2 separate regions of the Homo sapiens genome follow, and region 1 is linked to region 2. Evidence: fine-mapped expression QTL. A gene starts in region 2. The other region holds a variant in brackets. All regions are shown on one strand. Distances are between the middles of the regions.

What was found. PIP is the estimated chance that this variant, and not a neighbour inherited with it, causes the effect.
Region 1: its variant is fine-mapped to the expression of RIOX1 in tibial nerve (GTEx, PIP above 0.99).

Annotation. Positions count from the first base shown.
Region 1 is chr14:73,468,568-73,472,955 of GRCh38, forward strand. No RefSeq gene overlaps it. Among named protein-coding and RNA genes, the nearest start is that of NUMB, 12 kb to the left of the region's middle. The variant T/C (reference allele first, on the strand shown) is at 1,993.
Region 2 is chr14:73,488,823-73,493,210 of GRCh38, forward strand. RIOX1 (ribosomal oxygenase 1) reads left to right here and starts at 2,111. Exons shown (of 1, transcript NM_024644.5): 1 at 2,111-4,388. The coding sequence starts at 2,196. The coding sequence ends at 4,121. It overlaps HEATR4 (HEAT repeat containing 4), which reads right to left. Exons shown (of 18, transcript NM_001220484.1): 17 at 4,244-4,302. It also overlaps a transcript of ACOT1 not described here. RefSeq lists enhancers at 1,191-2,096, 1,778-1,887, 3,076-3,576 and a silencer at 2,438-2,727.

The DNA of each region.
Region 1 (4,388 bases), 20 kb before region 2:
TTTCTCTCTTTCACGTGTGCATAAGGCAACTTAGAAACATTAATTCACCAAAGAATACTTGGAGATTCCCAAATGATCACCCCAATTGTGGCTCTTCATCTCCAAACACTTAGCCTTTTTTTTTTTTTTTAAAGGAATGTGATGTGCTTAAACCAGATCTTTTTTCTTTCTATTTGGCAGGTACATAGGCACATGACCCTAGTATTTTCCTTCTCTATTTATTCCCTTCTATACTTTACCACAAATACTTCCACTTGACTCCCTCTTCTGGTCTCTGTTCTATGAACCATCTAGATTATCATTCCAAATGAATACATTTGTGTTTGAGCCCTTAAATGCAAGAATATTTCCCTTCCTGGTCTCTCCAAAGCTAACAGGCTAACTAGACTCAGAACAGGACTTTAATCTAAGCTGGCAATAAGTGCTTACCTGTCCTGAATGACCTAAGCTGCAATCATCCTGGGTCACAATCATCAGAGGAACAGATATTATTTTTCTCCTATTGCACGAAGTGGACAAAGGTTGTCTAGATGGTGCAGAATGGATCTCGATAAAGCCAGAGCTCCTTGTGAAATAAGAAAAATCTCAAGAATGGGCATGTGACTGCTAAGCAAGCTCTGTGGGAGAGCTCAACCTATAATATTACAAGTGGCATGCGTAAGATCAACATGAACTCATCTCTCAAATCCCCAAATCTTAGGTTTCAATGTCTCTTACAAAGTTCCAGGAGAGTTAAGCTTAGGACCAATATAAAGGAAGACTACTCCAAACTGTAGGTAGTAAATGCATGGCACTCATTACCCAGGGAGGGAATACAATCAGAATACAGAAAAAAAATCAGGGCAACATTTATGAATTGCAGAGCCATATATGAGTAAAACTGGATGGATCTTGAACTACTCATTTTCAACCCTAGTCCTATGTGAAAGTCTCATGTCTCTCTCCTAGGTCCTAGTATTCCAACTCAGTAGGTTGGAGTGGGGTCTGTATATAGTTGCAAAGCTCCCCCAGGTGATTCTGATTTATAACCAGGTTTGAGGACCACTACTTGAATAACTTGAATAACCTTTAACCTGCTGGATAGGTCTGACCCAGCCTGGTCATCCTTACGGTCCTAATTGTCAAACTGCTTGGTTGATGAATGACAACTCAAACAGATACAGCTGTATACCTGCAACATAAGAACAAACTCCAGAGCAGTCATTAGACCCTGAATCTACAGATCAAATCAAGCAGTATAATAATGCTCTGGTCCCTGGCTCATTTAGAGTCTTCTCCAAGATCTCTAAGTCTTTCCCACCTTAGGGATGAATCAGCGGAGGCACTTAAAACAAGGTACTACTTTTGGAAGGAAATATTCAGATTTGCTTATAAGAATAAGATGCAGACTTCTTTTTTCTTTTCTTCTCTTTTTTTTTTTTTTTTGAGATGGAATCTCTCTTTGTTCCCCAGGCTGGAGTGCAATGGCATGATCTCGGCTCACTGCAGTCTCCACCTCCTGGGTTCAAGCGATTTTCCTGCCTCAGCCTCCTGAGTAGCTGAGATTACAGGCAGGCACCACCACGCCCAGCTAATTTTTGTACTTTTAGCAGAAATGGGGTTTCCCCATATTGACCAGGCTGGTCTCGAACTCCTGACCTCAAGTGATCCACCCACCTCAGGCTCCCATATTGCTGGGATTATAGGCATGAGCCGCCGCGCCTAGGCAGATGCAGGCTTCTTTACATATTTCTGTCACGGCTCTTTTTGCACAATGTTTAACACAGTACTAGGAATTCGTTTATTCAGTAAACATTTATTGATTAAAAATTAGTTACATACCCAATGCCAATAGTTTGTTGCTGAGGATATAAATAATTAAATAAGGCAGTGATAAAACAGACCAGATGTGATCTCTAGCTTCTTAGTTACCTAATAAGCTCTCAAAAATATTCTTTTATCATAGTGGCTGGATACAGTGTAAAACTCTACCTAAGGGTCATCCTACCCTCT[T/C]AGGAACACAACATTTAAGTTCTTTCGAAGACCGAGCTACCCTGGGGCCAAGAACAACTATAAAAAAAGTGCCTACCTTTTCTTCTCAAATGTACCTACAAGTGAAGGTTAAAAATGAACTTCTGGCTGGGCACGTTGGCTCACGCCAGTAATCCCAGCACTTTGGGAGGCCAAGGCAGGCAGATCCTGAGGTCAGGAGTTCAAGACCGGCCTGAGCAACATGGAGGAAACCCCCGTCTCTACTAAAAATACAAAATTAGCCGGGCGTGCTGGTGCATGCCTGTAATCCTAGCTACTCAGGAGGCTGAGGCAGGAGAATCGCTTGAACCCAGGAGGCAGAGGTTGCAGTGAGCCAAGATTGCGCCATTGCACTCCAGCCTGGGCAACAAGATCGAAACTCTGTCTCAAGAAAAAAAAAAAAAGAACATCTGGAGAATGAGAACTATGCTATATTCATCTTTGAATTTCCAGTACCAGGTACAGTACCTTGCACATAGTAAGTGTTCAGTGTTTTAAATTTTTTTTTTTTTTTTTTGGAGACAGAGTCCCACTCTGTCACAGGCTGGAGTGCAGTGGCGCGATCTCAGCTCACTGCAACTTCTGCCTCCCAGGTTCAAGCAATTCTCTTGCCTCAGCCTCCCGAGTAGCTGGGGCTACAGGCATCTGCCACCACACCCGGCTAATTTTTTGTATTTTAGTAGAGATGGGGTTTCACCATGTTGCCCAGGCTGGTCTCAAACTTCTGATCTCAGGCAATCCACCTGCCTCGGCCTCCCAAAGTGCTAGGATTACAGGCGTGAGCCACCGCGCCTGGCCCAGTGTTTTTAAATTTTAATTAATTAATTAATTTTGAGACAGGGTCTGGCTCTGTCACCCACGCTGGAGTGCAGTGGCCCCATCTCGGCTCACTGTAACCTCTGCCTCCTGAGCTCAAGTGATCCTCCCACCTCAGCCTCTGAGTAGCTGGGACTGCAGGCATGTGCCATCATGCCTGGCTAATTTTTGTATTTTTTTTTTTTTTTGGTAGAGATGGAGTCTCACTATGTTGCCTAGGCTGGTCTTGATCCTCCCACCTCGGCCTCCCAAAGTGAAGTAATTGCAGGCATGAGCCACCGCACCCAGCCTGTTCAGTGTTTTTGAATGAGTGAATGAATGAATGAAGCTGGAATCCCAGTTCTGCCACTAACTGTGTATCTTTGTACAAGTCACAGATTATTTGTAACCCTTTTTTCATGACTGGGATAACAACTACCTTGCTTATTTGTTGTTATGTGACTGGAGGTCATGTGTTCTAAGAATCACTGGCAGCTGGGCATGGTGGCCTGTAATCCCAACATTTTGGGAGGCTGAGATGGGAGGATCACTTGAGCCCACAAGTTTGAGACCAGCCTGGGAAACAGAGGGAGACCTCATCTCCACAAAAAAATTAAAAACTAGCTGGGTGCGGTGAGCGCGTGCCTATAGTCCCAGCTACTGGGAAGGCTGAGGAAAGAGGATCATTTTTGAGCCCAGGAAGTCAAGCCTACAGTGAGCCATGATTGCACCACTGCACTCCAACCTGGGCGACAGAGTGAGACCCTGTCTCAAAAAAAAAAGAAAGAAAATTGGCACTCTGCCTGGCATTCAGCAGGTGCTCAACAAATGGTTGTGGTGATGCTGTATGGTTGTTACTCTGAGAACGGAGAAGCAGAAGCTTCCAAGAACCAACTTGTATGGTCAAAGTGACATCTAGTGGTAAAATTTTAGAACACACACCAAAAGCACAGTCAATTGCTGGTTTGAAATTTAAATTGAGGAATGACTAGGAACTAACAGGGCACCTGATTTACATAAGTACAGTAACATTATTTAATTCTCACCAGTGATTTTTTTTTTTTTTTGAAACGGAGTCTCACTCTATCGTCCAGGCTGGAGTACAGTGGCGCGATCTTGGCTCACTGCAACCTCCGCCTCCCAGGTTCAAGCAATTCTCCTGCCTCAGCCTCCCATGTAGCTGGGACTACAGATGCTGGCCACCACGCACGGCTAATTTTTGTATTTTTAGTAGAGATGGGGGTTTCACCATGTTGATCAGGCTGGTCTCGAACTCCCGACCTTAGGTGATCCTCCTGCCTCAGCCTCCCAAAGTTCTAGGATTACAGGCGTGAGCGACCGCACCTGGCTTCACGAGTGATTTTCAATCCTGGATGCAGATTAGAATGACGTGTGAAGCTTTAAAAATCTACTGGTGTCTGGATCTCACCCTTGGAGACACCAATTTAACTTGCAGGAGGTGTGACTCAGGCTGTCACATTTTTAAACTGCGATTTTAACATGCAGCCTGGTTGGGAACCACATGCAAGAGACCCATGAGATAGTCTTCTTCTCGTTTTACAAATGATGAAAGTAAAAGTCAG
Region 2 (4,388 bases):
GACCAGCCTGACCAACATGGTGAAACCCTGTCTCTACTAAAAATACAAAAATTAGCTTCGGTGGTAGCAGGTGCCTGTAATCCCAGCTACCTGGGAGGCTGAGGCAGGAGAATCGCTTGAACCTGGGAGGTGGAGGTTGCAGTGAGCCAAGATTGGGCCATTGCAACACAGAGGTTGGGGTAACACAGCAAGACCCTGTCTCAAAAAAATAAAATAAAAATAAAAAATAAAGGTAAAGAGACTAGTTGGGAGGCTATTTGTAATAAACCAGGATTTGTCTGCCTCAACACTACACTACTGACATTTTGCATCAGACAATTATTTGTTGTGGGAGGGTTGTCCTTAGTATTGTAGAATGTTTAGTAGTGTCTCTAGTGTCTGTTTACTAGATGTTAGACAACCCCTAGCCCCCTATATGACATTGCCAAATGTCCCTATGGAGACAATATCACCCCCAGTTGATAACTGTGTGTGTAACAGACCATGTGAGAAATAAAAAAGGGTGGATGTTAGACATGGGTAAGGACAAAATCTAAAAGCCTTGGCAAGTGTTTGGATAGGCTTGCAACTGAGAAAGAGGGAGTGTTGAAAGCTCAAACAGAGAAAGGTCCTAGAGGCCATGTACTGTAGTCTAATATGCTTATCATTGCTTGAAACATTGTAAACCCTCTTGGAAGGCAGTTTGGTAAAACCTATTAATAATCACAAAAAGTATCTTACTTTTTGACCCAGCACTTTTATTTCTGGGAGTTTATCTTAAATGATTCAAATGAAGACAAGGAATCTTTATGTACAAAGCAATTAGTTGCATGACAGACAGTGACCACGTTCTCAAAAATTACACCCGCATGCCACCACATTGCCTGTTAAATTAGAAGCCGATTTAAGATCCTGAGTTTAAGAGCCAAAGAAGTTGTAGCTAAAGAAACAAAATCCCAGAGGGGCAGGAAGGGCAGATATCAAGAATGCAAGTAGAGAAATTCTTAACTTATTTTTCAGAGAGAGGACAATGAATTTGAGAATTTGTATTGGAGAAAAGAGGGAGAGAAGTTAGGTGGAGGAACTCCTAGATAAGGCTTCAATCAGTGAATTCATCTGCAGAGCAGAAGTTTCTGCGGAACTCAAACTGCCTGGGGGCATTCCTTGAAAAGAAGAATTCTGCACTTTTTGGTGGGAACCTGCCGGTGGAACATCCTGTTTAGAAATGAGGACATCCAAGGAACACTGCAATGTGCAGAGACTAGAAGGAAAAAACAGTCAAGTAGCCATTTCTCCTGGGGAGTCTCTAGTAACTTGATTTTGTGCTTCTTCTTGTTTTTTGAGACAAGAGTCTCACTCTGTCGCCCAGGCTGGAGTGCAATGGTACGATCTCGGCTCACTGCAACCTCCACCTCCCGAGTTCAAGCAATTCTCCTGTCTCAGCCTCCCGAGTAGCTGGGACTACAGGTGCAAGTCACCACACCTGGCTAATTTTTGTAATTTTTAAATTATTATTTATTTTTATTTTTTTGAGGCGGAGTCTCGCTCTGTCGCCCAGGCTGGAGTGCAGTGGCGCCATCTCGGCTCACTGCAAGCTCTGCCTCCCGGGTTCACGCCATCCTCCTGCCTCAGCCTCCCGAGTAGCCGGGACTACAGGCGCCCAGCACCACGTCCGGCTAGTTTTTTGTATTTTTCTTTTTTAGTAGAGACGGGGTTTCACCGTGTTAGCCAGGATGGTCTCGATCTCCTGACCTCGTGATCCGCCCGCCTCGGCCTCCCAAAGTGCTGGGATTACAGGCGGAGCCACCGCGCCCGGCCAATTTTTGTAGTTTTAGTACAGACGGGGTTTCACCATACTGGTCAGGCTGGTCTCGAACTCCTGACCTCAGGTGATCCACACACCTCGGCCTCCGAAAGTGCTAGGATTACAGTCGTGAACCACCGCGCTTGGCCGCAACTTGATTTTTAAATTGCTCTCTGAGTGTAGATTCCTTGTTTGTTTGGCAAGGGTTCTTGCCGCTGCCGCTACAGCTTGAAGCCAAACATTTAATGAAAGAGAGCGGGAGGGGCCGAATAGAAGAATGATGGGCGTGGCCAACCCCGAGGTGGCTGGAGGCCGCGCCCCCTTCCCAGAGTGCACCGCAGCCGCTGCATTCAGGAACCGCTTTAGCTTCGCCCCCGGCCGGCCGGGCGGGGAAGACTGGTGTGGTCTGGCCATGGATGGGCTCCAGGCCAGTGCAGGGCCGTTGAGGCGCGGGCGGCCGAAGCGCCGGCGCAAGCCCCAGCCACACAGCGGGTCGGTCCTGGCCCTGCCCTTGAGGTCCAGGAAGATACGAAAGCAGCTGCGAAGTGTTGTATCCCGCATGGCAGCGCTGAGGACGCAGACGCTGCCTAGCGAGAACTCGGAGGAATCGAGGGTGGAGTCGACGGCCGACGACCTGGGGGACGCGCTACCCGGTGGGGCGGCGGTGGCGGCCGTCCCGGACGCAGCCCGGCGAGAGCCATACGGCCACCTGGGGCCCGCAGAGCTGCTGGAGGCCTCGCCCGCCGCGCGCTCCCTGCAGACCCCGTCGGCGCGCCTGGTGCCCGCTTCCGCGCCGCCCGCGCGCCTGGTGGAGGTGCCCGCCGCGCCGGTCCGGGTGGTGGAGACCTCGGCCCTGCTGTGCACCGCGCAACACTTAGCGGCCGTCCAGTCGTCCGGGGCCCCTGCGACGGCGTCGGGGCCGCAGGTGGATAACACGGGTGGGGAGCCGGCCTGGGACTCCCCGCTGCGGCGCGTCTTGGCCGAGCTGAACCGCATCCCCAGCAGCCGGCGGCGAGCGGCCCGCCTCTTTGAGTGGCTCATCGCGCCCATGCCGCCAGATCACTTTTACCGGCGCCTATGGGAGCGCGAGGCGGTGCTGGTGCGGCGGCAGGACCACACCTACTACCAGGGACTTTTCTCTACCGCTGACCTGGATTCGATGCTGCGCAACGAGGAGGTGCAGTTCGGCCAGCATTTGGACGCCGCTCGCTACATCAACGGACGACGCGAGACCCTGAACCCACCCGGCCGCGCGCTGCCCGCCGCCGCGTGGTCCCTGTACCAGGCCGGCTGCTCCCTGCGTCTCCTCTGTCCGCAGGCTTTCTCTACTACTGTGTGGCAGTTTTTGGCTGTGCTTCAAGAGCAGTTTGGAAGCATGGCAGGCTCCAACGTTTACCTCACGCCCCCTAACTCGCAGGGCTTTGCCCCCCACTACGACGACATCGAGGCCTTCGTGCTGCAGCTGGAAGGTAGGAAACTCTGGCGTGTATACCGACCCCGAGTCCCAACCGAGGAACTGGCTCTGACATCCAGCCCCAACTTCAGTCAGGACGACCTCGGTGAGCCGGTGCTGCAGACCGTGCTGGAACCTGGAGATTTGCTGTATTTTCCTCGGGGCTTCATTCACCAAGCTGAATGCCAGGATGGAGTCCACTCTCTGCACCTCACCTTGTCCACGTACCAGCGCAATACCTGGGGTGACTTCTTAGAGGCCATACTGCCTCTGGCAGTGCAGGCTGCAATGGAAGAAAATGTGGAGTTTCGGAGGGGTCTGCCCCGAGACTTCATGGATTACATGGGGGCCCAGCATTCAGATTCTAAGGATCCGCGAAGAACCGCTTTCATGGAGAAGGTGCGGGTCTTGGTTGCCCGCCTGGGACACTTTGCTCCTGTTGATGCTGTGGCCGACCAGCGAGCCAAAGACTTCATTCACGATTCTCTGCCCCCTGTTTTGACTGATAGGGAGAGGGCACTAAGTGTTTACGGGCTTCCAATTCGCTGGGAGGCTGGAGAACCTGTAAACGTGGGGGCCCAGTTGACAACAGAAACAGAAGTCCATATGCTTCAGGATGGGATAGCTCGGCTGGTGGGTGAGGGGGGCCATTTGTTTCTCTATTACACAGTGGAAAACTCCCGTGTGTATCATCTGGAAGAACCCAAGTGCTTGGAAATATACCCCCAGCAAGCTGATGCCATGGAACTGTTGCTTGGTTCTTATCCAGAGTTTGTGAGAGTGGGGGACCTGCCCTGTGACAGTGTGGAGGACCAGCTGTCCTTGGCAACCACGTTGTATGATAAGGGGCTGCTGCTCACTAAGATGCCTCTAGCCCTAAATTAGTTTCTTGTTGATTGCTGGAAACAAGGCAGTAGTGATTCTCCGCTGCCACTGCTACCTTTTTTTTTTTTTTTTCCTTAAACTCACGTTCTTACCTTGATAAGCATCAGTGTGCTCACATTTACCTTTATCACTGCTTCAGTGTCACAAACCTCGGAAGGTCTTCTAGGAAGAACCATCTCATCTAGGTACAAAAGGAAAAGGAGAAGTTGGAGGTGGAAAAAAAACCCTTGATCCGTGATCATTTCAGAGCACCAACTTCATCACCTT